Linked DNA regions of Homo sapiens. The protein of the gene in region 1 purifies or fractionates together with the protein of each later gene. This does not show direct contact. Each region holds a gene or a part of one and is shown on either strand. Other genes may lie near its edges. The genes, in order: PLXND1, ADCY9, STAM, ENTPD2, VSIG1 and STAM2.

Evidence for each region.
Region 2: the proteins of PLXND1 (region 1) and ADCY9 purify together in Homo sapiens (co-immunoprecipitation; one large-scale study listed by IntAct). This does not show direct contact.
Region 3: the proteins of PLXND1 (region 1) and STAM fractionate together in Homo sapiens (co-fractionation; one large-scale study listed by BioGRID). This does not show direct contact.
Region 4: the proteins of PLXND1 (region 1) and ENTPD2 purify together in Homo sapiens (co-immunoprecipitation; one large-scale study listed by IntAct). This does not show direct contact.
Region 5: the proteins of PLXND1 (region 1) and VSIG1 purify together in Homo sapiens (co-immunoprecipitation; one large-scale study listed by IntAct). This does not show direct contact.
Region 6: the proteins of PLXND1 (region 1) and STAM2 fractionate together in Homo sapiens (co-fractionation; one large-scale study listed by BioGRID). This does not show direct contact.

What each region holds. Positions count from the first base shown.
Region 1 is NC_000003.12:129,557,794-129,562,605, reverse strand, and holds part of PLXND1 (plexin-D1 precursor), read left to right. Parts: intron 1-702; coding exon 703-806; intron 807-896; coding exon 897-960; intron 961-1,882; coding exon 1,883-1,917; intron 1,918-2,171; coding exon 2,172-2,276; intron 2,277-2,822; coding exon 2,823-2,986; intron 2,987-4,030; coding exon 4,031-4,178; intron 4,179-4,812. UniProt on the Homo sapiens protein: Cell surface receptor for SEMA4A and for class 3 semaphorins, such as SEMA3A, SEMA3C and SEMA3E. Plays an important role in cell-cell signaling, and in regulating the migration of a wide spectrum of cell types.
Region 2 is NC_000016.10:3,989,645-3,994,475, reverse strand, and holds part of ADCY9 (adenylate cyclase type 9), read left to right. Parts: intron 1-151; exon of another isoform or gene 152-965; coding exon 966-1,070; coding exon of another isoform or gene 1,071-1,127; exon of another isoform or gene 1,128-1,434; intron 1,435-1,567; exon of another isoform or gene 1,568-2,112; coding exon 2,113-2,330; exon of another isoform or gene 2,331-2,346; intron 2,347-4,831. UniProt on the Homo sapiens protein: Adenylyl cyclase that catalyzes the formation of the signaling molecule cAMP in response to activation of G protein-coupled receptors.
Region 3 is NC_000010.11:17,684,985-17,689,815, reverse strand, and holds part of STAM (signal transducing adapter molecule 1), read right to left. Parts: intron 1,790-4,831; coding exon 1,643-1,789; intron 1-1,642. UniProt on the Homo sapiens protein: Involved in intracellular signal transduction mediated by cytokines and growth factors. Upon IL-2 and GM-CSL stimulation, it plays a role in signaling leading to DNA synthesis and MYC induction. May also play a role in T-cell development.
Region 4 is NC_000009.12:137,051,262-137,056,584, forward strand, and holds the start of ENTPD2 (ectonucleoside triphosphate diphosphohydrolase 2), read right to left. Parts: upstream 2,801-5,323; 5' UTR 2,737-2,800; coding exon 2,620-2,736; intron 2,115-2,619; exon of another isoform or gene 1,749-2,114; intron 1,615-1,748; exon of another isoform or gene 1,088-1,614; coding exon 970-1,087; intron 400-969; coding exon 249-399; intron 110-248; coding exon 1-109. UniProt on the Homo sapiens protein: In the nervous system, could hydrolyze ATP and other nucleotides to regulate purinergic neurotransmission. Hydrolyzes ADP only to a marginal extent. The order of activity with different substrates is ATP > GTP > CTP = ITP > UTP >> ADP = UDP.
Region 5 is NC_000023.11:108,064,678-108,069,508, forward strand, and holds part of VSIG1 (V-set and immunoglobulin domain-containing protein 1 isoform 2 precursor), read left to right. Parts: intron 1-32; coding exon of another isoform or gene 33-110; intron 111-2,258; coding exon 2,259-2,457; intron 2,458-4,831.
Region 6 is NC_000002.12:152,119,213-152,124,043, reverse strand, and holds part of STAM2 (signal transducing adapter molecule 2), read left to right. Parts: intron 1-108; coding exon 109-278; intron 279-3,241; coding exon 3,242-3,470; 3' UTR 3,471-4,831.

The DNA.
Region 1 (4,812 bases):
AGTGAACTACGGACAACAGCAAAAAGCCTTCAGGAAAGGCTTCCTAATTCCTAAAGGAGGGATGCTGGAGTAGGGTTGGTTTGTTTGTTTGTTTTTGAGACGGGATCTCATTCTGTCACCCAGGCTGGAGTGCAGTGGCGCAATCTCAGCTCACTGCAGCCTCGACCTCCTGGGCTCAAGTGATCCCCTCATTTCAGCCTCCTGAGTAGCTGGGACTACAGGAGTGCACCACCACATCCAGCTAATTTTACTTTTTGTAAAGATAGTGTCATGCTGTGCTGCCCAGGCTGGTCTTGAACTCCTGGGCTCAAGCGATCCTCCTGCCTCATCCTCCCAAAGTGCTGGGATTACAGGTGTGAGCCACCGCGCGGGGCCTGGAGTGGGTTTTATAGGAGTCTTGGTTAGGCCAAGGGTTTCATCAGCAATTGTAACATGAACAGCCTTGCAGACAAGGCCATTTCCAGAGCTCCTCCTCTGTGCCCTCCACCCTGGCACCTTCTCTTTGTACCCTCACACTCTCCCCCAGCTCTTTCCTGCCCTCCCCATTTTACAGATGGGAAAATGGAGGCTCAGAGAGAGGTATGGCTTGCCTCAGTTTACATGGAGAGAGCGAGAGGCCTCTCCCTATGTGGCTGGGCCGGTACCTACCCCTCAGGCCCAGCTCCCTGCCCGGACCCTGATGGCCTGTCCCTTGTCCCCCAGAGTGGTTCGCCTCCAGCACACAGAGCTACATCCTTCGGGACCTGGACGACACCTCAGTGGTGGAAGACGGCCGCAAGAAGCTTAACACGCTGGCCCATTACAAGGTGCAGCCCTGCCCCCCGCCCCCATTTCCCCACCCTCATGCCCCCACCCCAACCTCCGGCCTCTGACCTCGGCCTCTCCCCTCCCATCAGATCCCTGAAGGTGCCTCCCTGGCCATGAGTCTCATAGACAAGAAGGACAACACACTGGGCCGAGGTAGTGCGGGTGCACGTGGGAAGGGAGCCCAGGCTGCGTGTGGACAGGGGCTTCCATCCCATGCCCCAGTGGGGAAGCTGAGGCTCCGAGAGGCAGGGCTGGCCTGGGCTGAGGCCTCCTTGGTGGGGGCTGGGCGGGGCCAGCCTCCTCTGACCCAGTACTGCTGGGGCAGGGCCCACACCAGGCCTCCTCAAGCTGATTTCCTGCGGCAGCTGGAGAGAGGCCCCGGGAGGGCGGGATGCAGTTCCAGGAGGTCTGGGCAGCAGCCAGGCCAGAAGGGGGGCCAGCATGCCCGTCTCAGCCTTGGGCCATGTCCCTGCCTCAAGTGCCCCCTCCACACCCTCAGACGCCCCAGGCACAGCCTCCTGGCTGCCAGGCCTGCGAGCCCGGGATCCTCTGGGTCTCGGGGTCCCCTTCTAAGGTTGAGAGCAGAGTCTCAGTCTCTCCCAGCAGCCTGGGAATCTGGGCTGGCAGGAGCTCTGGGCTCAGGGGTGGGGTGGGCAAAGGCACCCACCCCCGCCTGCCTGGGGCCCCTCCTCCCCCGTGGCTGCATCTTCCTGTTTCTCTCCACCGCTGTCCCTCCTTCCAAGTCCCTCCATCCCGGGTCACTGTGTGTGTGTCTTTCTCTCTCTGCCTCACTCTGTCTCGCTCGCTGTGTGTCTCTGGATCTCACTTATCTCTCTCTCCGTCTCTCCCAGACTCAGTCTCCCCATGCGTCTCTGCATCTCTGTCTCATTCTCTCTGACTGTCTCTTTGGATCTCTGTCTCCGTTTCTGTTTCTCTCTCCATCTTTCTGTCTCTGCTTCTGTTTCTCTCCCCATCTTTCTGTCTTGTTTCTGTTTCTCACTCCATCTTTCTGTCTTCATTTCTGTTTCTCTCCTCTCCTCTCCCGTGTTTATTTATTGTGTTTTTCCTCTCACAGTGAAAGACTTGGACACAGAGAAGTATTTCCATTTGGTGAGTGCCCAACCTCGGCCCCGGGGGATCCAGCCCCTCAGTGGGTGTGGCCTTGGCTTTCTGTGGCCCTGGGCCTCTTGGGAAAAGTGCTCCCAGCCCTGCGAAAGGCTGGGGGGTGGGGGAGTAGGGATGGGGCCCAGAATCAGGAGGGAACCACAGCCCTTGTGTGCTAAGAAGCATGGCAGAGCCAGACCTCCCACAGGCGGCCGAGGATGGGGCCTGGTGCGGACACTGACCACTGCCCGGCCTCCCAGGTGCTGCCTACGGACGAGCTGGCGGAGCCCAAGAAGTCTCACCGGCAGAGCCATCGCAAGAAGGTGCTCCCGGAAATCTACCTGACCCGCCTGCTCTCCACCAAGGTGAGTCCGGCCTCAGTCTCCCCTCTGTGCAGTGGGTACAAGGCTCCAGCCCCAGCTCCAGAGGGTCATTGCTCAGGGCCAGCTGTGCACCCGCGGCTGGGAGAGGGGTGTGAGTTCTTCCTGTTTCCCCTGTGGGGCTGGAGGGGCAAGAGGCTGAAGGCTTAGGGTCCCACTTGAGGAGGCATTTCTCACAGCCAGGAAAAATGCCTGACAGAGACTTCTATGTTAGCCCACGTAACAGGGTACAGCAGAGGCCCAGAGGGATCAGTGATGTCCCCAAGGCCACGTGGCTCAGTGGCAGCGCCGGCACCCCACAGCCCATACTCTGGCACTTCCAGTTCTCGACTCCATGTGCCAGTGCCTCGATTAGTCCTTTCAACGCCTCTGGGAGGCAAGTGAGCCAGAGAGGCTCGGTGACCAGCCTGATGCCATGTGGCTTCCTCATTCAGCAGCCTGGCATTTCAAGCTCCGCAGAGCCACCAAGGGTGCCCACTAGCCCTCTGCACGTGGCCCGGGGCTGACGGCGGCCACCCCACTCCCCCGCAGGGCACGTTGCAGAAGTTTCTGGATGACCTGTTCAAGGCCATTCTGAGTATCCGTGAAGACAAGCCCCCACTGGCTGTCAAGTACTTTTTCGACTTCCTGGAGGAGCAGGCTGAGAAGAGGGGAATCTCCGACCCCGACACCCTACACATCTGGAAGACCAACAGGTGGCGGGTGGGGGGGCCGTGTGGACTTCACTGTGCCACTGGGGCCCCTGTGGCAGGGGGTTCAGAGTCTAGTCTTCTGGCCTCGCCTGCTTGGGGTCAAGCCCTCCTCTGCCATTTCCCAGCTGTGTGTTCTCGGATGAGTGACTTAGCCTCTCTGTGCTTCAGTTTCCCCTCCACTGTAAAATGCGACCCATGTTAATGGTGGGAATTAACTAGAAGAGTGCCCAGAAGCATGGTCTAGGTGTTGCCCTTACTATCATTCTCCCGCACCCCTCTCAGGTGGGCACCATCAGCTCCACTTCACAGATAAGCACACTGAGGCTCGGAGAAGCAGCACCTGCTCAAGACCACACAGCCTGGGACAGTAGAGCCAGGCTCGGCCCTACATTATCTGAATCTCTTACCCAGTTGGTAGCCCTCCTTTGAGGCACCTCTTAGCTTGTCGGGGTCATGCACCCCCACAAGAAGTTGCTGGAAACCCAGCCTGACCCTCAGGAAGAATACCACCAGCCCAGGCGCCTCTGTGCAGGGCAGCAGCTTCCTAGAGCTCTGGGGGTACACATGCCCAGGCTGCTGAGTCACTGGGTGGCCTGAGGTGGGGGTGGGGGTGTTGCTCACCCTCTCTGGCCTCTTGAGGACAAGGCCAGAGCTCCAGGCCCTGCCCCCCACAGCCCTGCCACAGCTGCTCTGCTAATGTCGGACTTCCTGCTGCCTGCAAGGGTTCAGGGAGGAGCCAGGGGTGCCCGGGGGCCGGCACCTGGTTCTAATGAGAACCAGGACCTGACTGGAGGCTCAGGAGGGGGTTGGGGGGTACAGCTAAGCCCTGTAGCTCCTGCCTTGCTCCAGCAGGAAACCGGGCTCTCAGCCCCACTGCACCCCAGCTGGCCAGGGATAGGCAAACTAAGGTTCCCAAAGGTCACATCTTGTGACAAGGCTCCAACCTCAGGCCCTTGAGGGACAAAGCCAGCTCTCTCCTCCACAACTGTCCCTCGACTGCTTCCTACCCCACCCTACCCTCACTGTCTTTGTCACCCTACCCCACAGCCTTCCTCTCCGGTTCTGGGTGAACATCCTGAAGAACCCCCAGTTTGTCTTTGACATCGACAAGACAGACCACATCGACGCCTGCCTTTCAGTCATCGCGCAGGCCTTCATCGACGCCTGCTCCATCTCTGACCTGCAGCTGGGCAAGGTCAGCTGTTCCCAGGACCAGGCCAGGCCCATGCACAGGGCCAGAGTGGGGTGCCGACCATGGGTAGCCTCCTCGACTCTCTGAGGCTGAGCTCAGAGATCTTCCTGGGAGGGGAACCAAAAGATCTCAGGTCTAGGGGATGTGGGATGAGTGACTCATTCAGACAGGGAGACACCTAGAAGCCAGTACCTTCCATCAGAAACTCTGTATCGCTGCAGACCAACTGCACATGCTGCAGCTGTGCCTGGCACTGGCTTTGAACACAGGCCTGAGAACCCGGTGTGGGAAAGCCAGTATGAGCTTGGACAACCTGCTTGGTCAGGCACAACATCATCTGAAAACCGGGCCAGGCTCTGGGCAGTAGCCCCTGAAAGTCAAAAGCCATTCAAGCGAGCATTCAGTGAAGGGGTGGGCAGAGGGGTGATGGGTGGCTAGGAGCTCTGAGATTCATGCGGTGTGTTGGGGGCACACAAGGCTGTGTCTGGCTTTAGAGGTTGAAGATGAAAGAGGATGGCCTTCCAGGCAGAGAGAACGGCGCAGGCAAAGACAGGGAGGCAGGAAAGCAGCCGGTTGCTGTGAGCAGGGATGAGATTGTATCATTAAAGCTGGCACTGCAGGATTGGTCCAGGTCGTG
Region 2 (4,831 bases), on another chromosome or scaffold:
CTCAAAAAATATTTAAAAATCGATCTTTTTAAAGTGTACAGTTCAGTGGTTTTTAGTATATTTAGCAAGGTTGTGCAACCATCACCGTGATCAATTTCAGAACATTTTTATCATCCCAAAGAGAAACCCTGTTGAAATACCACAAACCAGGTGGCTTTTAAACAACAGAAATGTATTTCTCAGGGTTCTGGAGGCTGGGAAGTCCGAGATCAAGGTCCCGGAAGATTCAGTGTCCAGTGAGGACCCGTTCCTGCTTCACAGATGGTGCCTTCTCCCAGGGCGAAGGGACGAGGGATTCCTCTGGGGCCTCTTTTATGAGGGCACTAATCCTATTTTGAAGGCTTGTCCCCCATGACCTAATTACCTCCCAAGGCTTTGCCCCCCAATGCCATCCCCTTGGGAATTAGGATTTCAGCGTCTGACTTTTGAGGGGGCACAAACATTCGAATCGTAGCAAACCCCACGCCCCTTAGCAGCCACTCCCCCTTCCTGCCCCCGGTCCCGCCTGGCAGCCAGGAATCTGCCTTCTCCCTCCAAGGATTCACCTTTTCTGAATATTTCACATAGACGGGATCACGTAATATCTGTGCTGTGTCTGGCTTCCCTCCCCGAGCATAATGTTTTCGAGGTTCACCATGCTGTGGCAGGCGTCAGTGCTTCCGTCTTTTTCGTGGCTGAGTAATATCCCATTGTTCGAATAGACCACAGTTTGTTGATCCATTGTTCAGTCAGTGAACATTCCCGGTTCCATTTTTGGGTCCTGTTGCGTTCGTGCCCGGGTTTCTGTGTGTTTCCACTGTCACTTTGCCCGTTGGCTTTCAGCTCATCCCCGAGCGGTTCTGTGTGCCTTCCCCTTGCTCACCACCATGCTGCGTGACGGCAGATGGCAACAGCGGACCTGCCTGAATTCAGGGTGGCAGTCGCGGTTTCTGGGTGTGTCCCCACAGTCTGTGTTTTTCTTCTAGACCTGCCCTTCGTGCGGAATCACATTTGCTCCCAAATCTGAAGCCGGCGCCGAGGGAGGAGCACCTCAAAACGGCTGCCAAGACGAGCATAAAAACAGCACCAAGGTAACAAGCTCATGGCTGTTGTTCCTGTCAGTTCCTCTCCTGGCGCATCCACCCAAGGTGACATTCCTGTCTTGTCGACTTCTTAGTTCTGAGAGTAACTCCTCTTGGGTAACAGCACTCCGCACCCGCGGGTCCTCCGGGTGTTGAAGAGACCGGCAGGGAGCTCGAGGGAGGGTCAGCAGCAACCCACGTGGAAACCAGCGCTCAGGGGCTGAGCTGGGCGGGATTCCTTTAAAGGCCAATAAGGGTTTAAAATGCGTGGATTCGAGTGCCGGGAGGGGATTTGTGGTACTGGAAGCTGGACTCAGTTTATGAGAGAATATAGACGGGCAGAGACAAGAGGGGGTCTTCACGGCGAGAAAGGCTGGGTGAAGAGAGAGGTTGGGAGTTAGGGCCGGTGGCAGGAAGGCTTTCAGGAAAACCAGACTTGGACACCAGGGCCAGGACTCAGCCCACCCGCGAGAGCCTGTCGGCGGGGGCTCATGCAGGCGACTCACCTGGGGCGCGGGCTCTCGTCCTCCATCTGCTCTCCATCTGCCAAAGGATTGCAGGTGCAGGTCATCCCATGCCTTCCCACAGCCACGGGGGACACCCACGACACGAGCCCGTTTCCATCCACCTTGCCTGTGCCCTGACAGCCCTGGACCCCTCGTCATACTTCTCCTGGACCCCCGACCCATGCACCCTGCTCCCAGAACCGTGGTTCTGGCCTAAGCAGACTCTGGGGGCCTCGGCTCCTCACTTTCCTCCCTTCCCCTCCACCTCCGCACCGACTCTTCCCATGTCTCAATGTCCTGGCAGCCTGAACACCCAGCGTTACCACTGGGCACTGTTGGGTAACAGGAAGGAGCAGACGGGCAGTCAGGGCTGGGATTGGAGCAGGTCTGTAGGCGCAGGGGGGTGGGGGTTCCTCGCAGGTCAGAAAGTCCCACGCCCAGTGCAGCAGCGCCCCGCAGCGGAGGTCGGGGTGGGACAGGCGTGTGTGCCCAGTGCCCGGTGCCACTTCACTTCCCGTGTCTGCGTCCTCTTTGTCTCGAGGCAGGCTTCTGGAGGACCTAATCCCAAAACTCAGAACGGGCTCCTCAGCCCTCCCCAAGAGGAGAAGCTCACCAACAGTCAGACTTCTCTGTGTGAGATCTTGCAGGAGAAGGGAAGGTGGGCAGGGGTGAGCCTGGACCAGTCGGCTCTCCTTCCGCTGAGGTTCAAGAACATCCGGGAGAAAACGGACGCCCACTTTGTGGACGTTATCAAAGAAGACAGGTACGACTGGGGCTGTCTGGGAAAAAGCAAAGGTTGCAGGCAGAAGCCTCTCTGCCTTTTTCTTTTCTTTTCTTTAAGACTGAGTCTCGCTCTGTCATCCAGGCTGCAGTGCAGTGGCGCGATCTTGGCTCACTGCAGCCTCTATCTCCCAGGTTCAAACGATGCTCCTGCCTCAGCCTCCCAAGTAGCTGGGGTTACTGGCACCCACCACCATGCCTGGCTAGGTTTTGTATTTTTAGTAGAGATGGAGTTTCATCATGTTGGCCAGGCTGGTCTCCATACTCCTGACCTCGGGTGATCCACCTACCCCACCCTCCCAGAGTGCTGGGATTATAGGCGTGAGCCACCACGCCTGGCTTTTTTTTTTTTTTTTTTTTTTTTTATAAGGACTAGGTCTTGCTGTGTTGCCCAGGCTGGAGTGCAGTGGCTCAATCTCGGCTCACTGCAACCTCCACCTCCCAGGTTCAAGTAATTCTCCTGCCTAGGTCTCTCAAGTAGCTGGGACTACAGGCATACACAACCATGCCCAGCTAATTTTTGTGTTTTTAGTAGAGATGGGTTTTTAACATGTTGGCCAGGCGGGTCTCGAACTCTTGGCCTCAGGTGATCTGCCCGCCTCGGCCTCCTAAAGTGCTGGGATTACAGGTGTGAGCCTGTGCCTGGCCTAATGGTAACATTTTTGAAAAATACAGGTCCAGTCCTTTTATCAAATATTCCTGAAGTTGGATTGGTTAGATTCAGGCTCTCCCTCTGGCCAGGCAGAGACTGCAGAAGGGATGCCGTGTCCTCCTCAGGGTGTCCTCTCCAGGGACACGCAGTGCCCGTCTGTTCCTCATTAGTGATACTAATTTTGATTAATTAGGCAAGGTGGTGCCGGGTTGTCTCATCTAGGGTTATTATATTCCTCTTATGACTAATAAGCAATCTGTGAGAAAATACTTGAAGATCTTGTACATATTTCATTCCCCATCAGAATTCCCTAGATTTAACATTCATTGATGATTCTTGCCTCTGTCTTCACTATAATGCCTCAAAGGGTGATTTTCAGCCAGGCGCTGTGGCTCACGCCTATAATCCCAACACTTTGGGAGGCCGAGGCAGGTAGATCACCTGAAGTCAGGGGTTCAAGACCAGCCTGGCCAACAAGGTGAAACCCCGTCTCTACTAAAAGTACAAAAATTAGCTGGGCGTGGTGGCGGGTGCCTGTCATCCCAGCTACTCAGGAGGCTGAGGTAGGAGAATCGCTTGAACCCAGGAGGCAGAGGCTGCAATGAGCTGAGATCGCAGCACTGCAACTCCAGCCTGGGCAACAGAGCGAGTCTCCATCTCAAAAAACAAATAAGAAATAAATGGAGCAGCACAGCTAATAGCAGTGTCGCTTCTGCCACTTGACTGCTAAAATGTGGCCTTGTGCACATCCTCTCTGCAGCTGCGTGGTTGCTCTTCCCTCAGTCCACACTCCCTGAGTCAGGGGAGGAGAGAGGGTCAGTGTCCTGGGACAGAATTATTTCTCTTCTGAGTCTGAGAATGTTGGAAGTTACTGGATACCTGTCACAGAAAGGAGAGTGTCCGCCGTGCTGCAAGGACAGGAAGGAACACACGTGATGAGCCGTACTTTGTGTGGGGGGCACATGAGGCACTTGACATATTTCACCTGATTTACTCTTTTTTTTTTTTTTTGAGACATAGTCTTGCTGTGTCACCCAGGCTGTAATGCAGTGGCGCCATCTTGGCTCATTGCAACCTCCATCTCCCAGGTTCAAGTGATTCTCCTGCCTTAGCCACCCGAGTAGCTGGGATTACAGGCACCTGCCACCAGGCCTGGCTAATTTTTGTATTTTTTGTAGAAACGGGGGTTCACCATGTTGGCCAGGCTGGTCCCGAGCTCCTGACCTCAGGTGATCCGCTTGCCTCGGCCTCCCAAAGGTCTGGGGATTACAAGGATGAGCCACCGCGCCCAGCCTCGTCTAATTTACTTCTGATAGTCACTGTATGAGGGAGAGAGGCTAACACAGCTATATTTGCTTTCTGAAATCATGTTAACGTTCCCTTAGTTTCTAGTAATTTTCTGCAGTATAGAAAGGATATTACTATTTGCTGGCAATTCATAAATGAATGAAAGAGTCATGGAAAGCGGGGTTGATTTCCCTGCTATTAAAATCACTGAGCTTTATCATTCTGCAGGTTTCACATGCAATCTGCATATGTGACAATAGCACCAAAATTACGCTAACTATAAACACAATTTTGTGATAACAACCTGTTAGCTTTTACGGTGGCAATTACTGTCAGTGCTCTGAATGACAGGACCGCCGGTTCTGAATTATGTTTTCGTTTGAAGCCTCCAAATCCATGTAAGTACTCTCAGCACAGTGATCTGCGTGTTCTTCACAAAAGATTGTTTCAAAGAACAGAAAAGCTGCCTTCATCTTCTCCTAATCCTAGACATTAGGAATGTGTTTTCAAAAACAAGCCTCAGCAGCTCACGCTGTCATCCCAGC
Region 3 (4,831 bases), on another chromosome or scaffold:
ATGCTGCATTTCTAACAAGCCTCCAGGTAATGCCAGTGATGCTGGTCAAACCAAGTTTTGAGTTAACAAGAACCAAAGACTCTAGATATTTAGTGGGCTTGCATTTTCTCTACCTATTCTAGGTGGGTTCTCTGCAGTGAGTCTACTCTTTGATAAATAAACATTGTTTCTGTTGTCAAGGAATGTATAATGTCTTGGATTATTCTGTTTAAGATTTTTCCTTAATTATACAGATTCTAGAAACTATACTGAGTAGTAAAAACCAGCTATCAGTTATGAATGAATGAATTTTCAAAGACATAATTTTTTTAAGAAAATTTTAAACCAAAATTTTTTTAAGAAGAAGAATGTCCTTTGCTTCCTTCCTCTCCCAGATACATTTTTGAGTCTTCACATCTCAAGAGTGCTCAGATAAACTGGAAATGCCTTGGGAAGAAAGCACATGTAGGTCTGGATGAATGTAGATAAGCTACATGACTCCCTGAAGTGGTCAAAACATAAGCCCCTCCACACTCACAGATTTCTGTTCATGGTTTCACATCACTCATTACAGTCTGTCCCAGTCAATAAACTGGGGAAAGACAGTGTAGTAAATCAGCACATATTTTAAGCCTCTTGATTAGTTGGGCATCCTAAAGGAAGGTTACCCAAAATAGAAATAGGAATAAAAAAGACATTTCTTGATTTTTTTCTACATGACATAAATTAGAGACTGAATTTTTTTGGCACAAGGGTGGACAGGAGAGCAAAGTTAAGCTATTTAGCCATATCCACTGGGGAAAGGAAGACTTATGTACTGGTCGGCTCTTACTAAGGAGAAAATGCTTCAGGTGCTTCTCTTCCCATTTACCCCTTCTAAAGTCCTCTCATTGTTAATAGAGGAATTCATAAATTTCCTCCACAAAAGAATCTCTCAAGTCATCCCTAACTTTTAAGGATATCCTGATTTCTGAGCTATCATTCTTTGTAGAAAATTATAGCATTAAGAGCATTTAAAAAGACAGTGTTACCTAATTAATAAAGCTATTTTGTGTATATTATTAAAACTGTACTGGCTGGGCCTGGTGGCTCACACCTGTAATCCTAGCACTTTGGGAGGCCGAGGCGGGCAGAACACCTGAGGTCAGGAGTTCGAAACCAGCCTGGCCAACATGGTGAAACCCACCTCTATTTAAAAAAAAAAAAAATTTCCAGGTCTGGCTGCACGTGCATGTAGTCCCAGCTACTCAGGAGGCTGCGGCAGGAGAATCACCTGAACCCAGGAGGCAGAGGTGGCAGTGAGCCGAGATCACGCTACTGCACTCTACCCAGGGCGACAAACAAAGACTCCGTCTCAAAAACAAACAAACAAAAACTATACCAAAAAATTTCAAAAACTGCAAAATGTTAAACCAATTCGTTTATAAAGAAGTAGAGAGGTTAGAGCACATTAATATTCCATTATAATACTTTTCTGGCACCTCTGAATGCCAGAAAACTAGTATTACTAACTAGCAATACAACTAGTTACTAACACAATTAGCTAACGAAAATTCCTCTGAAGTAGTAAAAATTACCTGGGAATGAAGAAAAAAATTCAAATAAATATAGCTATTTAAGAGAAACAAACTGTAGCACACACACAACTTCATTCCCAAAATACCTGAGAGCCAATAGCTGGGAACGTAACTCCTTGTTCCTTAAGGTTCTTAATCATTGCTGATATTAGACTAAGCTGTGGATCATTCTTAAATTCATCTGTCCATTCAACCATAAGAGCCTTTAATTTTTCACATACTTTAGGATGACCCTGTAAAATAGAAAAAGAAATAAAAGAGCACCAATTTCCTAGCCAATGATTTAATACAGACATTTTAAATAGTAAAGTTATTAAGTGATGTTTTTTGAATCACAAGTTATGCATAGCTATAGACAAGAAAATATAGTTATTCGAAATAAAACTAATGTTCACACTATGAAAAAACCCATCATATATATCTCACTTCAAATTAAAGCATTAAATAGGTAATAAGATTTTGGAGATCTGAAAGGACTTTTCAGAATATTTTGCAACGAAGCAAGGTTTGTACATCAGTAAGACAAGGAAAAGTGTCTGCTTTTTGCAAAGCAATAAAAAAGTGGGAAGGAGAGAATAAATGATACAGTTCCTTTATTCCAAATTCCTGACTTCTTAATGTTCATGACTATGCATTTTTTCCATGATGCTTAATTATCTGGGGCCTAGTTTGAGGTACACTGCATGTTAATCATTTTGAAAATTTAATTTCTTCAAAATAACATAACTTTTTTTCCTTTCTTTTCTTTTCTTTTTTTTTGGTTTGTTTTTTGAGACAGAGTCTCACCCTGTGGCAGAAGCCGGACTGCAGTGGCTCGATCTCAGCACACTGCAACCTCCGCCTCCCAGAGGGGGGTGGGGGATGCGGTTCAAGCGATTCTCTTGTGTCAACCTCCCGAGTAGGATTACAGGCGCGCACCACCATGCCCAGCTAATTTTTGTACTTTTAGCAGACGCGGGGTTTTACCATGTTGGCCAGGCTGGTCTTGAACTCCTGACCCCAACTGATTCGCCCGCCTCAGCCTCCCAAAGTGCTGCGATTACAGGCATGAGCCACCGTGCCCAGCCCAAAATAACATAACTCTTTATGGTTGATGTATAACAAAGATTCAAGTTAGTCTAAGGCAGGTGTGCAGGGCATTATTCTTCCGTATTAAAGAAAGAGATAAATGTAGTGAGTTTTCAAAATAAATTATTTTACTCATTGCTTATTAAGGGAAAAAACCTGGCCAGTTCATTAAAATACTGATGTATCTTCATAGCGGCAATAATTTGAAGTCTTACTATTTGATGTAATAGATATAAAGAAACCTTCACAGATACCAGAGAAGAAATAACTCCTCTATGAAATGTCATGAATGTATTTCAAACCAATGCTTACTAAATAATTGGCTAAAGCTTTTAAAAATGGAGAAGGTTAGACTTTTAGATTACTCTATTAGAAGAAAAAAAATTCTTTCTAAGTGCACATGTAATCTGTATTTTGGTCAAGGAGCATATAATGGATTTGCAAACGCTTTATTGAGACTATACATGAACTTAATTTGTTTAATAAAAGGAAATTTTTTAAAAGGGCAGGATGTTGGCTGGGCGCGGTGGCTCATGCCTGTAATCCCAGCACTTTGGAAGGCCGAGGTGGGCAATCACAAGGTCAGGAGTTCGAGACTGGCCTGACCATCCCCATGGTGAAACCCCATCTCTGCTAACACTACAAAAACCAGCCAGGCGTGGTGGCGCATGCCTGTATTCCCAGCTACTCAGGAGGCTGAGGCAGGAGAATCACTTGAACCCGGGAGGCAGAGGCTATAGTCAGCTGAGATCACGCCACTGTACTCCAGCCTGGGTGACAAAGAGAGACACTGTCTCAAAAAAAAAAAAAAAAGGCGGGATGTTATTAAGTACAAAACCAATATGTTCACTGTAAAACATTCAGAAAATAAAGAGAAGTCCTCTTGCCTATAGGAAGTCGTTTTTGGAAATGGCTGCTTGCACTATTATACATAGGTAAGTATACCACATTTTTCACCTACATTACAAAAAACATGGTATTAGAATCTCTTCATAAACAGTTGTAATCTCGATGGACATTCAGGACATTAAAAGACAATGTTTATTAATTAGTAGAAAATAAATATTAACTGCATAAAGCAGGAAAGGGAAAGAATTATCATTTAACCATGATGTTCGAAAAGTACAGAATTTTACATTCTTACTATATTTCTATACTGCTATTTTTCTACTGTAACCTGGAACTATTCATTTTTCCCAAAAACATGAGGCATTTTCCCTTTTAACATACAAAAACTTTTTCTTGATTTACAGTACTCCCCCTAAAAAGGCCAAAAATAATTACTTTTAGAATGCACAAATTTTTACTGGGGAAACTCACATATTACTAATTGAAAATTGAAAAATTTCTTGAACTGTGTGACTAGAATTCTACAGTTGAGTGGGCAGTTGTAGGGTCCCCAGTTCTCCCTGCTTTCTTTCTGTGTCCCAATAGAAAAACAGAGTGCCTTGTCCCGCTCTGTGACCTAGCCAGCTGCATGTTTTCCACCATAGGTTTGGACCCAAACTGGGGCCTTGAACATTCTCAGGCACTGATAAAGTTGTTCAGGTTGTGGCCCAAAACACTAAAAGATCAAGTATGTTGCTAAACACACAGAAACCAGCCCCAACCCTGAGCCAAATTCCTTAAACCCTCCTATAAACTGCAGCCCTCCTGTGTAAGTTCCCCTAATAAATCCTTTAGACTGATCACCCTGGCATTTAGTGCCTCTTTTTTTGGACTCTCATCTGGCCCTATCTGGAACAGTTTGGGGCAGTCCCTTGTGGAAACTCCCCCGCCACCACTTTTGAGGCAACTCCAGCTGTGGGTTCAGCCAGTAAGAATAGCAGTATAGTATTAAAATCCTGTGATGGCCAGGAAGCAGCCTTATTGATAAAGATAAAAACTCAACGGTGCCATAGACTTTTTGCAGTGTTTCTGAAAGGTTTTCCATTAGGAAAATACCTTGTGCCTACAAAAACAGTATGTAAAATAGACTGATATTATTTAATTAGATATAGAAATACCTGTTTTCTTATCAGATGAAAGTATGATGGAAAAGAACAGGTTAAAAACACTCTAATATGGCTTGAAAAAACTAACTCAAAGTTACATGAATCCGCAGTCTCTTCAACAAAACATAATATTTATTTATATACTGGATAGACACAGCCTAGAAAGGATTTCTTAAAAAGCACAGAATAGTCCTCTGTGAAGATTTAAACAAT
Region 4 (5,323 bases), on another chromosome or scaffold:
CTCTTCCTGGCCCGAGAGGATGCGTGCACCCCGGAAGTCAAAGGGGTACTGGGTCAGTGTGTGAGTCACTGCCATGAGCACACTGGTCGAGGCCTCTGGATTGGTCAGGCTGCAAAACACAGAGAACTCCAAGAGGCCTTCTCCCCAGGTGGCTGTGAGCCTGCTGTAGGGGTGCTCGGAGTCCGCCCTGCAAGGGGTCACAGCCAAAGGCCATCATGGGGACAGGGCCAGGGCACAGGCACACTCACTTGAGCAGGCGCATACCCGCTGTGGCTCCCAGGTAGAGGGGTGTGCCCGCGTGTCTCTCTTTGGGCACATCCTGAAGCGCCTGTTCGAGGCATCCAACAAGACTCTGGCTGGCCCCAGAAGGGTTGTCTGCATAGCTGGAGATGCCCCCACCTAGAGGGAGGCAGAGAGATGAGCCTATGCCTCACGGGCAGCCCCTAGGTGGGCCGTAGGCCAGGAGAGTGAGGGTGGGGGTGGGGGCCGTGGGCTCCCAGACCAGGTGGCACACCTTCCCTGCTTAAGCCCCCAGAAACGCCCAGGTTGGAGACAAAGGGGCCCAGGTGCCACCCGGAGACCAAGGCTGCTGCCTGCTGAGAGGGTGTGGGTGCAGGTGCTAGGACAAAGCCCTGGGCATGGTCAACCCAGGTTGGCCTCCTGAGGCCTGCCTGGGTGTGTCCGCCAGGCCCCCAGACCTCCTCCTGCTCCATCTGGGGCACAGAAGCCAATACTGGGCCCGGCGAGGCTCAAACCTCCCCACCTGCTGCCTAGGCTTCCTTTCTAGAATGCAAACGACTCCTGGCCCCACTCAGGCGCAGGGGCACCAGCCTCTCTCTTTCCAGGGCTTCTGCCTGGAGTGAGCCCCACCCAACACTAAGCAGAAGGACCTGCACTGGCTAAGGCTGGAGAGGGTCCCAGAGACCCTGCAGTGAGTGGGCGTCCTGGCTGGGCTGGGCTGGGCCTCACCTGGAACATCACAGGAGCTGTGCTGGCCCACAATGCCTGTGTCGTTCTCCTTGTCTGCCGGCCACTTGTAGATAAACATGGACGTGTGTGAAGAACCAGCGTCCAGGACGATGCCATACTGCGGGGGAGGGGGAGGGAGTCAGCCTGGGGTGTCCGGGGGCCCTGACACCCTGACACCAAACGTGAAGTTGGGTTCCTCCAGTTTGCCACCGCTCCCCCCCCCACCCAGTCATGTGCCAAGCCTCATGCTGAAGCTCAGAGGAGGCCAGGGCCTCCTCTGAGGCCGTGGTTGGAAGGAGAACAGGGAGGTGGTGGGGAGGTGACTCTTCCCTCCTGACTACCTGAAGCCAGCATGCCAGGGTCTGGGCAGCAGCCTTCCTGGCAAGGGCAGACTGAGGGACTGAGTCAGGGACAGAGGGACAGAGGGTCCCCAGGGACTTTTCCCTGGGGCACAAGTTTCCCAGGCTCAGGGAGAGGAAGCTCCTCTGCAAGAGGAGCTCCCTAGAGTCCCTCTTCCTTCCTCCCCTCTTCCTTCCTCCTCTGTCTCCTTCCAGCTCCTCTGACGGCAGCCCAACCTGAGGATGCAGGAGGCAGGGCCCCAGGTGAAGAAGGTCCACCGAGGCTGGCCGTGGGCCTCAGAGCCAGGTCAGCTCTAAAGACACTCTCCCTAGGCCTCCAAGCCAGGGCCAGAGAGAGAGGCTGGCCCTGCCTTGTTGGGGGTGCTGGGTGGGCCTTCCTGCAGACCTGAGTGGCACGAGCTTGTAAATGCCCTTTTCCAGCTCCTGCCCCAGCATCCTGGATCCACCTGGAAAGCTGGGGACCAGCCTCCCAGGCCCGGGCGCCAATTCCAGCCTCCGAGAGGGCCGCACCAGTCCATCCCGACCAAGGCTTCCCCAGAGCCCAGAGCATCAACAGGTCAGCGCGTGCACCGCCACATGGCCGTCCTGCAGGGCCGCAGAGCTCCCTGCTTCTGACTCCCCATCAGGCTGGGGGACTTGGCTCTCCACCCCACCCCCCTACAAGCCCAATAAAGGGTTAAAGGGGCCGACCAGGAGGTCCCTGGGCCTGCTGGAGTGGAGATCCAGGCTAGCCTGCTCCAACCTTTTGAGGACCGGCCAGGGCTGCTCCGGTCAAGCCCTCCTGTCTTTCTGGGCCACTCTCGTGTCCTGGCGGGGGCCCTGGGTCCTGGGGCTTGTGGATCCCCATCTGGGCTGAATACCCAGTCGATGTGGCTCTAACCGCACCCTCCGGGGCGGCGGCACAGGGCAGAAGTGGCCCGGAGTGCCCCTGGGGGCCCGCACAGGCCTGGGGGCGGGCGTCCGGCAGCACCCAGGGGGCATCGCTGGGCTATCCCGGGAGCGGGGACACAGCCCCTGGGCTGCGTTGACGGACTCGGCGGCGGGCGCGGAACTCCCGGGACTTGTTCCTTCAGCACCGCGTCGCCCTGGAAGCGCCACCGCCCCCCGCCCCCTCCGCGTACCCGGTCGGGGAGCGCAGAGCGCGGAACCCGGGACCCCACCCAGCCCGCCAGGAGCAGAGCACGGTGGGGGTCCCGGGCTGATCCTGCTCAGGTTCCCAGCCGCACCCCCTCCCCGGCTCCAAGCCCGGCCCGCTGCTCCCCAGACGTGCGCTGGGTGCCCGGGCGCGCACCTTGAGGGCGGGCGGCTCCCGGACGTCGCGGGTGGGGACGCACAGCAGTAGGAGGCCGGCGAGGCCCGCGGCGGCCAGCAGCAGCGGCGGCAGCAGTGACCGCACCTTCCCGGCCATGGGCGGGCGGGCGCGCGGGAGGACGATGCGTGGACCCGGAGAGTGCGGGGAGCCGGAGGCGGAGGCGGGCGGGGCCGCGGGACCGCGGGGTAGGGGCCCCGGGGCGGGACGAGGGGCGGGAGGCCGGGCGGGCCCGCCCATCACCGGCCACGCCCACGGGCGGACAGGTTTCGCCTCCGCTCCCAAGCTTCCGCCGTCCGGCCCGCGCAGGTGAGAGACGCGGGCGCGGCTGAGTCACCAGCACCGCCCCCCGGCTCCCGGGTCTGAGCCCGGGCGCCCCGCGGCTATGGCCCACCTTCCCCTTCCCGCCCACTCAGCAAGGGGATCCCCCGGCCGTGGAGGCAGGAGACCTGGCGTGGGGGTGGGCGGGCGAGGCTGGCTCGGAGGGTCCTGTGCTGGAGAGCCGCGCTTTTCCCGGGCCCGGGAAAGGAGGCCAGACTCGCTTGCAGGAATGAGGCACTGTCGGCTGCGGAGCCACGCGGGGCCCGGGCTGGGGACTCAGGAGGAAGCCGAGGGTCAGCACCTGTTTGTGGAGCAGGGCCCTGAGCGCCAACTCCCAGGGCTGGTGAGGACCAGGCTGGCCTGCGGGATGCCCTCCCGGCCAGCAAGGATCCGCCAGCCTGCGGCGCTGAGCCAGCGCAGGTCAGCTCCAGAGACACGCAGCTGACCCAGGCCAGAACTACCCTTGAGGCCCAGTCAGATCCACCTCACCTGGGCCCTGTACTGAGGTGAAGGTGAGGACGCAGGAACGGGGAAGGGGAGGGACGGCCCAGGTCACACCGAGCCGAGAAACAGGAGAAGCAGCACAGACCGGGCCAAAGGTCCATACCTCCCAGCCCAGGGCCTCAGCCGCGCCTGCTGCCCCCTCGGCCTGAGGGGAACAGAGGCTTGGGCTGCGGAGGCCAGAGGAGGCTTCCCCAGGACGGAAACAGGTGGGGCCTCTACGTGGCCTGAAAGGCAAGGAAGAGGGTCCCCAGGCCAAGCTTGGGGTGCGGGTCAGCAACAGGCTTCTGGGGACGGCTGGGGCAGGCGAAGCGCAGCTGGCCCCAGACGCAAGCCCTGCTCCTCCGTCCCACGACATGGCTGGCCTTTCGGCTCTGCAGCCTCACAGGCCCCGCATCCCAGCCCGGCCAGGGGCCACCCCCTTTGCGCCTGCTGCAAAGTGGGAATTCTTGTCCCAATAATTCCAGCCACACAGCGTCAGGGAGCCACGAGGCAAGGCCACCAGGGAGTGCAGGCTGCTGGGGCCCAAAGGGCAGCCCCATGGGGCAGGGTCCAGACCATGCCCGGCCTTCTGGAACGGGCAGTGACAATTGTGCTGGGATTGCTGCCTGGGCTGAGGGTCTGGCGCCACAGGCCCAGTAAAGGCATCTTTCTTCCAGCTCAGGACCCCAAAGGGAGGGGTGGGAACCCTGGGAAGCCTCTCTGCTGCCTCAGCCTCACAGCCCAGCCTGGCGGGGCTCCAGCAGGCAATCTCTGGGTGTTGCCGGTGCTAAGCTCCAGGCCCCAGGCCCCAGTTTCCCCCCACACACCCCAGGCCTTTCTTCCACCCCTGACCGCCCAGAGGAGGGAGAGGCACGCACAGTGCACATCATGCCTGAAAAGGAAGGAACAAAGGCCGCCCAGAGGCAGGGTGCTGCGACCCCCACTGGCCTGCGGTACCCCGCTTCCCTCCAGGCCCAGCGGGGCTTCCTGGTGTTCTGGACTCTTTTCATGGACAAAAAGCTCAAGCCAGGGAGTGGGAGGTCTGCCAGGCCTGAGAGGATGGGGAGGGAGAGGGGAGCTGGACTCTGCCCCGGGGAGACAGGCTCATGGCCGAGTGCCCAGCTTCGCCTGCGGAGGGAGAGGCAGGGAGCCCAGAGCGGCCAGGACAAAGGCTGAGGCTGAGCTCTCTTTGAGACGGAGTGAGGGCGGGGGAACGCCCCTTCCTGGCATGGACTCAGGGACCCTGGAAGGCAGACTTGGGAGAGCGTCAGAGGGAAGCTGGCAGGAGCTGAAGGGGTGGAGGGGCCTCTGGGTGGGGCAGCTCTCGGCTTCCAGGACCCTCTCGGGGATGGGGCCTCCAGATGTGCTGCACATGACCCCGGCTGAGCTGGGAACATGCGGATGCAGAGAGGTTAGGGGAGAACCCCTGGGGGAGGGAACTCGGAGCCTCCCGCCCACGCAGGGCTCAGACCTCCCAGGGAGGGGGGCTTTCCTGAGGCCTGCTGACATCTTGGCTGCCCTGCCTCAGTCTCCACATCAGAAGCTTGTGCTGTGTGGCTCACGTCTGTAATTCCAGCACTTTGGGAAGCTGAGGCAGGTGGATCACTTAAGGTCAGGAGTTCAAGACCAGCCTGGCCAACATGGTGAAACGCCGTCTCTAATAGAAATACAAAAATTAGCCGGTTGTGGGCCGGGCGCGGTGGCTCACTCCTGTAATCCCAGCACTTTGGAAGGCTGAGGCGGGCGGATCATCAGGTCAGGAGATCAAGACCATCCTGGCTAACGCAGTGAAATGCCATCTCTACTAAAAATACAAAAAATTAGCCGGGCGTGGTGGCGGGCACCTGTAGTCCCAGCTACTCGGGAAGCTGAAGCAGGAGAA
Region 5 (4,831 bases), on another chromosome or scaffold:
AAAACAGGGCTGATGTTTTACACTGTCCACAGTCTCCTTGGGAGGAGGGGAAGTGGCCAGATGTTGAGGCTGTGAAGGGCACTCTTGATGGACAGCAGGCTGAACTCCAGGTAAGAAACAACAAGACCTCAAACTGTCAATTAGAAAGTAAATAAGCCCCATGCTGCCTAGTGAAATTGAAAGCCTGATAGCGTGGGTGCCAACTCAAATGAAAGTAATCCTCTGATGTATTGAACCTCCTTCTGTCCCACTTGAATACCTGGAGTTAATCCTGGCTTTCTGGTTTGGAAGTCAAACAAGACCATTCTGGGGCAAGAGTTTGTGATTTCAGTAGGTGTGAATGAATGAATTATAAATGGCTGCATTTATAATGCAAGCAAGAAAACACGTTGATGTTAGAAAAAACGGGAGAGAAACAAATAGTTTTCTCTGTAAATGTACTCTTTTCCTGGGATTTTTCCCTCAAAATCCAGCTTTCTGCCTTAGTTTTAAAATATATTGACTTTCTGCTTAAAGGAGAATACATTTGAATTCATCTAGACAATATCTTTTGGTTTTCTAATTGCTTTCCCTCTTTTATTGGCCTGTTAAGGTAAAGCCCACAGTACAAGGAATTAGGAAAATTGGATTCCAGATCTGTCTCAACCGTCAATTTTGCCTTTTATTTTTTAACCTCTCTGGGCTTTGGTTTCTTCTGTAAACTGAGGGAAGTGAATTAAATGAACTGTAAGGCCTTCCAGTAGATTTTATGAAAAATTAGTCTCACCAGACTAAGACAATACAGTTTATTGAACAATAACAATCACTTGAATAATATACATTTACATGAAACCAACAAAACATGTACATAGAAGGTGTGTATTATGAAGGGACCTCAGGAATTACCTAATCCAGTGATTTCCCAGCTTCAGTCATTCATGTACCATCTACATGATTTTTGTCATATTTGTGTATCACCAGCACTATTTGTTATTTAATGTTATTTTCTGTATTGACTTGTTTTCTTAAAATCTTAAAAAATATCTACCTTAATCTACCCTATGCAACAATATTCAGGAAGTCATAGATTTAATGTGCTAGATTTTTCTGTTTCTAATACACATTGAAATTTGTAAGTTTTCATTTATATACTACCTAAAATCAACTTAAATGCCTATACTTGGTAAATACATATCATACTTTGGAAAACATTACTCTCTTTTCTCATTCAGATGTGGAAAGTAAAGGTTGGAGAGATTAAATAACTTTGTTTCTTATCTAAAACCAGGCTGCCATGGAGGCATGACTAGAGGCCACCTCCCCTAACTATATCACAGTGAGGGGCAGAGCTGTGACTAACTCAAGCCACCTGACCCCTAGACCAGGACCCTTTCCACCACATCATGCTGCTCCCACAGTTGCCATTATGATCTAAGTATCTATGCTCTTTAATAGAAATGGGACTAGAATCCAGATCTTAAGTTTAATAAGTTATAATAATAATAAATGAGCCCTTGTGGCTTCAGATGGGTCACTTAATCTCTCTGGGTCTGAGATGCCTTATTTGTTTAAATGACAGAAGAATTCCAGTTCTGCCTTCTGCCACATGGGGAGAAAGATGGTAGCTATCATTGGCTGAGCACTTCCGAGGTCCTTTACTAGATTTCTTAGTTTCATCTTCACAACACCACTATAAAGGGATGGGACCAGATGATTTCTAAGATGCTTTTCCGCTTTGCTTCTAATAAACAAAACAAACCCAAGTTTGTCTATCCAAAAGAGTAGGTGTGTCTAAAAGGAGCATGAACATTTGAACATTTAAGGAAACCAGATAGTCTCACTGGGTAAGGTAAATTCAAATTTTAAGAAGTTTATAAAATGGTAAAAAAAAAAAAATGATGGTTTTGGTTTCCCATCAGACATTTGTGTTCTACATAATGAGTTTCTCTCAGGTGGATTCATTAAGTGAGCATCTTGATCTCCTAGCCCAAGCTTAGGTGTTGAATCCTGTCAGCTCCAGCTGCCTCCTCCTCTGTAAGATAGGCATACTAATCCCTGCCCTGATGACATCACAGAGCTGCTCTGAGGGCCAAATGCGCAGCTGTGAGCAAACTAAAGTGCCCCACTGAGTTGAGAAACCTTGGCCACAGGGACCTGTTCCTGGTGGGGGGAAGATGCTGCTTCTTTATCAAAGGTAATGTGTTTAGAAGAAGCTTTCAGGTAGCTTATCCTAGTCCTGGACTCTCTCCAGTTCTCACTTCTGTTATTTTTCTGTCTAGATTTACTTTTCTCAAGGTGGACAAGCTGTAGCCATCGGGCAATTTAAAGATCGAATTACAGGGTCCAACGATCCAGGTAATGCATCTATCACTATCTCGCATATGCAGCCAGCAGACAGTGGAATTTACATCTGCGATGTTAACAACCCCCCAGACTTTCTCGGCCAAAACCAAGGCATCCTCAACGTCAGTGTGTTAGGTATGAGCACTTTTTTCTGCTTTTTCTTTTCTTGGAAAAAGTTAGGACACTGAATGAGCCAGGACAGTGAGTTATGATGCCAATTAAGTCTCTGTAGGTAAATATACTCCCTAATATTTTCATTATCAGGGAAATAGAGACAAGCCACCAGCCCAACCAAAACAGTAACACTGAGAAATCACTCATAAAACATGCAGAACAATTGTGCAAACGGGCTGCCAAAATGACAGCAGTAGATGACCCAACCTCCAGTGATCCCTATCTCTGAGGGATGGAATGAGAACAGATGAGACAATCCACTGTCCCACAAAATGATCACTAGCAACTCTTTTAGAGGAAACCTCCATTTACAGCCAGATCTACCTGGGGGAGACTACTGTCAACTTATTATTCCTTTTAAGCTCGACACAATTCCCACCATTAAATTATTCTTTTAAATAAAGACAGGAGAGTCCCTTTTTTAAAATGCTAATGTTATTTGGAAAAAGGACTGAAATTAATCTAGTGTTGAGAATCAACATATTTACATACAAATATTCATTATATGATATTGGGCAAGCCGTATCTGCTCTTAAAATGAATTTGGAATCTCATTTGTTCAGTATTTATTGAGTTACAGTGATGGAGGTGTTGTTTTTGCCCTTGGGAAGCTCCCAATTTTGGCCATTTCTAGAAGTCCTTACAATCTCTGTCTGAGAGGACAATGTGGGCTAAACTTCCATCTGCAGGCTGGTATTGGGAAGTATCGAAGCAAGGGATGAAAGGGCTGCCAATCCTCAACTCTTACAGACAGACCAGTTGAGATGAGCATTTTCCCACTTCTAGGTAGCCCCAAATGAAGCTGATCTAGTCATTGCTGCTCTCAAGCTGTGTGCACACATCACAAGAAAGGAGGAACTACATCAAATCAGTGACTTAATAGTTGAGTAGCTTGGAAAAGCAGCAATTGGTAACAAGGTGCATACCCAAGAGAACTGTTTACAGTTGTCCTGGCTTGCCACTCAGGTAATGCCACAAAGGAACCAGCTGACATTTACTGTGAGGTTTGCCACTGCATCTACCCACCTGGGAAAGAGGGAAAGGTACCTAAGAGCTATTTTTTAAGAGTGGGTTAGCTTAATCAATCATATTTTTATCTTACTGAGTTCTGTGCCAGGAATTGGGGTACAGGAACAGACAAGAGAAGTATTACTCAAGCAAATTCCTGGGAGAGTTTCTGTTTCAGTTTGGAAGACTAGTGTATTAGTCTATTCTTGCATTGCTGTAAAGAAATACCTGAGACTGGGTAATTTATAAGTAAAAGAGGTTTAATTGTCTCACGGTTCTGCAGGCTGTACAGGAAGCATAGCAGCTTCTTGGGAAGCCTCAGGAAACTACAATCATGGCAGAAAGCAAAGGGGAGGCAAGATGTCTCACATGGCTGGAACAGGAGGAAGGGGAGGGGAAGATGCCACACACTTTTAAACAACCAGGTCTTATGAGCACTCATTCACTATCACAAGATCAGCACCGAGGGGGAAATCCGCCCCCATGATCCAGTCACCTCTCACCAGGCCCTATCGCCAAAATTAGTGATTACAATTTGACATGAGGTTTGGGTGGGGACACAGATCCAAACCATATCAACTAGTTAGTTATATACATGGGAACTAAGTGATGTGCTATAAATGCCAAAGCATCAAACTGGCACTCAGAAGACCTGAGTTTTAGATCTTACTCTGTACTCAGTGACCTTATACAAGTCAGTCCACCTTTCTCTGACCATTGTGAGATGGGGTTATAATTTCTGCCCTGTCTTCTTTACAGGTTTGTTATGAACAGTTTTGTTATTTTACCTATAAAATGAAATACTGGAGATCAAAGGGGTTTTTAAATGTTCAAAAACTGGAGGGATTAGCTAATGATTTTCTGTTGCTTCCTGGTTCTGGGATGTTCTGACCAGAAACAATCTAAAGAAGCCAAGTCTCTTCATCTCAGAGCTTGGAAATAGCCCTGAGATAAAGTTAGACAAGAAGGTTAATATTCTTAAATTTAAAGCTCAGAGGATCCCAAATCAATTTCCATAAGAAGTTGAGGGTCACTTCATCTCAGAGGTGTTTTTTCCCATGAGTCTTTGTGTCAGATAGCTCTGTGTCATGACTTTTCCTTAAGCAGCCAGGATCCAGACAAGGTAAGAGGCAGAAGGGTCTGTGGATTTCCTTGTTTGTTTAGGAACTCTAAAAAATATTGTTTTTGTTAATTGGGCAAAGAACAAAGGCCTCCTCCAAATGTAGGCTTTTTGGAAAATTTGAGACTGCTAATTTTCTCTAAAAATTGCAGCGACTATTTGCAATTCTCAAATCTCATTGTATATGAGTGACAATTTTGCTTGCCC
Region 6 (4,831 bases), on another chromosome or scaffold:
TCCCAAAGAAGTATAGTTTCTTTCCTTTAAGTCTTTTAACATTTTAAATATATTATTAGGCACATGTTTGGGAGATGAGTGAATCAACTTTTTCTTTCTGATTAATAGACATATCCAGTTCAATCACATGGTGGAAACTATATGGGTCAGAGCATTCACCAAGTAACTGTTGCCCAAAGCTATAGCCTAGGACCCGATCAAATTGGTCCACTGAGATCTCTGCCTCCAAATGTGAATTCCTCAGTGACAGCACAGCCTGCTCAAACTTCATATTTAAGGTAAGTTTTGGGAGCTGTGTTAATTTTATATGTGTTAATTTTCCTAGATTTTCAGAATGAGAATATATAGACCCTTATTAAGATGAAGTTACAGAACTGTTTATTCATAATCCTGTGAAGTGGAATGGTGTTACCTTAGCTTTGCTACCCATACTGAGATTATTGCCCGCCCTTAAGCTTACAGTCTGCATCCTTGGGGCAAAAGCTAATTGTCCTTTATGAGACTAAGCCCATGATGTGCTTAGCACTGTGCTATAATCAGCCTGTGAAGTAGTCCCAGACTTATTTATCTGCATGCACTCCTAAAAATTAGAAAACTGTTGTTACTTTGACCCTTAAGAAGGGCGTTTGAACTGTGGAATTTGTAGTTCAGGTTTTTTTGTTTTGTTTTTTTGAGACAGAGTCTCCCTCTGTCACCCAGGCTGGAGTGCAGTGGCTAGATCTCTGCTTACTGCAACCTCCGTCTTCCAGGTTCAAGCGATTCTCCTGCCTCAGCCCCCTGAGTAGCTGGGATTACAGGCACGCGCCACCATGCCCAGCTAATTTTTTTGTATTTTTAGTAGAGACGGGGTTTCAGCATATTGGTCAGGCTGGTCTCGAACTCCTGACCTCGTGATGTTCCACCCGCCTCAGCCTCCCAAAGTGCTGGGATTATAGGTGTGAGCCACCACGCCTGGCCAAGTTTTTTTTTTTTTAAGACAAGGTCTCACTCAGTCGCCCAGGATAGAGTGCAGTGGCATGATCTCAGCTCACTACAGTCTTGACCTCCCGGTCTCAAGCTATCCACCCACCCTCATCAGCCTCTCCAGTAGCTGGGACTACAGGCAAGCACCACCATGTTCTGCTAATTTTTGTATTTTTTTGTCAAGGTGGGGTTTCGCCATGTTGCCCAGGCTGGTCTCAAACTCCTGAGCTCAAGGGATCTGCCTGCTGTGGCTGCTCAAAGTGCTAGGATTACAGGCATGCACCACTGCACCCAGCCCTATAGTTCTTTTTTTAAATAAAAACACTTTTACTCTAAGAGTTGTATTTAAATCTTTCTTTCTATTCATTTTGCTTAACCATACAAAATGTTCATTCAATATAATCATATGTAGATGATCTATAAGGTCTCTTCTCACCCTCAAACTCCATGAGTATGAATTTTAGATATTATATGAATATTAAATAAATCTGTTTATATTAGTGTTCAGTTAGAATAAAATATAAAATTTTGCTATGTTTGGTAACACTAGGAACTGTGGAGAAAAAACTGGTGTAGTTTTGAAACTAATTCTCTTTTATTGCAAGCAGTATATTTGGTGGAATTTAAAATTACATAATTTTTTTTATTGAAACTTTTTTTATAGATGGGGTTTTATCACCCAGGCTGAAGTACAGTAGTGTGATCATAGTTCACTGCAGCCTCCAACTCCCGGGCTTAAGGGATCTTCCAACCTCTGACTCCTGAGTAGCTGAGACCACAGGCGCATACTACACCCAGCTAATGTTATTAATTTTTTGTAGAGATGGGTATTGCCATGTTGCCTGGGCTGGTCTCAAAGCAGGCTGACCTCAAGCAATCCTCTCACCTTGGCCTCCCAAAATGCTGGGATTAAAGCCATAAGCCTCCAAGCTCAGCCCTAAAACCGCTGGGCATAGTATGTATATATATGTGTATACACACACACACACACACACACACACACATATATATATATATATATATTTTTTTTTTGGGGACGGAGTCTCACTCTGTCACCCAGGCTGGAGTGCAGCAGCATGATCTTGGGTCACTGCAAGCCCCACCTCCCGGGTTCATGCCATTCTCTTGCCTCAGCCTCCTGAGTAGCTGGGACTACAGGCGCGTGCCACCACACCCAGCTAATTTTGTTTTTGTATTTGTAGTAGAGACGGAGTTTCACTGTGTTAGCCAGGATGGTCTCGATCTCCTGACCTCGTGATCCGCCCTCCTCGGCCTCCCAAAGTGCTAGGATTACAGGTGTGAGCCACCGCTTCCAGCCAAAAGTATATATATTTTAAGAGAAATGTATGCCACAGTAGTTATAGGAACAAACAAGTCTTGCAATTTGGTGTGATTTTTCAGCTTAGTTTGTGAAGTGTCAATAAAGAAACTATAGTTTCGGACTATCCTGAGGGTTGATTTTGGGCCCTATACAGACTATGCTGTTTTCCTTTTAAAAGTAGAAAGTCCTTACTGAAGGAAAGCTTGAAGGATGTTTACAGAGAAGAGGTGGACTTCTTTGTGCTGGATTGGGAGATGGGGAAGGGAGAATATGGGCTGAAAGTGGCATCTTGAGCCAGGGCTCCATTCTCATTGCAAATGGCCAAGGGTACTTCTGTCAGGAACAGTTTGCATCTCCTCAGGTGGTTTCTGAATGTTTTTAGTTAGAGATTCTGGAGAAGGGAAGTTAAATTGGCCTTAGAATCTTACATTTTGTTTGTTTTCAAGTACCTCTCTCTTCTTACCAAATATAAAAATTACATTAACAAGCTCGGCATGGTGGCTCATGCCTGTAATCCCAACGCTTTGAGAGGCCAAGGCCAGAGGATCACTTGAGCCCAGTAGTTTGAGACCATCCTGGGCAACATAGCAAGACCCAGTCTCTACAACAAAAATTTTTTTTTAATTAGTTGGGACTAATTTAAATTTTTTTTAAATAGTCCCAGCTACTCAGGAGGCTTAAGGCAGGAGGATTGCTTGAGCCCAGGAGTTTGAGAATGCAGTGAGCTATGATCTGCACCCCAGCCTGGGCAACAGAGCAAGATCCCATCTCAAAAATAAGAAGAAGAAAATTTGATTAACAGTATTCAATGGCTGGAATGATTAAATTGTAATCAGAACAGCAGAGCTACGTAAGCTTAAAAAGAAGATGGAAAAGGCATTTTTGTCATGATGATTGATCTCTAACCTTATATATTGCAAAGTAAATATGGTTTTCTTTTTAAAATTTTGTTTGTAGCACTGGACAAGACACTGTTTCCAATCCTACTTATATGAACCAGAACTCTAACCTACAGTCAGCTACTGGTACAACTGCTTACACACAGCAAATGGGGATGTCTGTGGATATGTCATCTTATCAGAACACTACTTCCAATTTGCCTCAACTGGCAGGCTTTCCGGTGACAGTTCCAGCTCATCCAGTTGCACAGCAGCACACAAATTACCATCAGCAGCCTCTCCTTTAGAAACAAATCAAGCATTTTCTTGAAAGCCTTCATAAGTGTATTATTCAGTCCTTGTGATACCAACCTGAAAATATTAAAACTTTTTTCCCTCTCAACTCAAAAGGACCATGAATAAATAAAGCACAAAAACCTCTCTTATTCTACAAGGCCATAAAAGGTTTTTTTTTTTTTTTTTTTTCAGTCCAGTTTGTTTGAAGTCAATCTTTTCATCAGAGGCAGCTTAAAGATGCTTTCAGTTAGTTTTGTCTTACTTTCAGATTTCTCTACATAAATCTAGATACTCATTAAGTAGCCTTATGACAAACAGTATGAGATACTTATGACAAACTCGCTCTGTCACCCAGGCTGGAGTGCAGTAGCATGATCGACAGAGTGAGTTTGTCAAAAGTATCTCATACTTATAAACAGTATGAGATAGGAGGATTAAAATATTATTTTAAAGAAACCACTGTTTCCCCCTAAAATGTCATAAGAGCACTGAAGAACTTGAAATATTTTTTTCAGAGTTTCTCACACACTTTAAAAGTCTAACTTTTTTGTGTGTAAGCATTTAGCTTGCCAGCATATTTCTTTTTGGCTCCTTAAATTGCGGTTGTGTTTGCAGTATTGTCACTTTTGCTCTCACTGTTATGTTGAATAATAATTAGCATATAATTGTCTACAGAAGCAAGAGCAATCTGGAAGGAACAAAAATGTTTTCTGTGATTAACAGTGAAGACCTTGTAAATGCAGATGTGTGATAAAGCATTTAGTCAGTCCCCCAAACAGTCATGCCAACTGTGAAGGAATGTCCCACAAAACATTTCCATTCCCTGAGGAAAAACATTTTCTTTCCTACATGTATCTCTGGTATTTAGAATTGTCACTAATAACCTTTTCAAGTGATTTTGGCTATTCTCTAATGAAGATATGGTCCATTTGTTTTTCTTCCTGCAATGTGGTGTGCAGAGATGCTGCATATCCTTTTTATGGGATTGCGTGTGAATTTGAACCATGAGACATTCCTAATAATTTGTTGTGAGATATACCAAGCATGGATGATAAGTGTGTTTTTAGTGGTGTGTTGTTTTTTTAAAGAGGTGATTCAAGTACCGTTGCTAAGCTGTCAACATACCAAGCTGTTGAAAAAATTGACCATTTCTTTCAGAAGTAATTCTCAGCCTGTGGAATAATAGCAGGTGAAGACTTCATAGAAGGCGACAGATTGATAGGGAGGCTATTGAAGCAGTTTTTCTGAAGCCTGCATTTTGAGTTAGTTTATAGTGCTAATAGATTCTATATAACTGTGAGAGTTTGGTAGTAAACCAGTAGGGATTGTTTTCTCTCCTAAAAATTTGCACACTACTTCATTGTCTACCAAC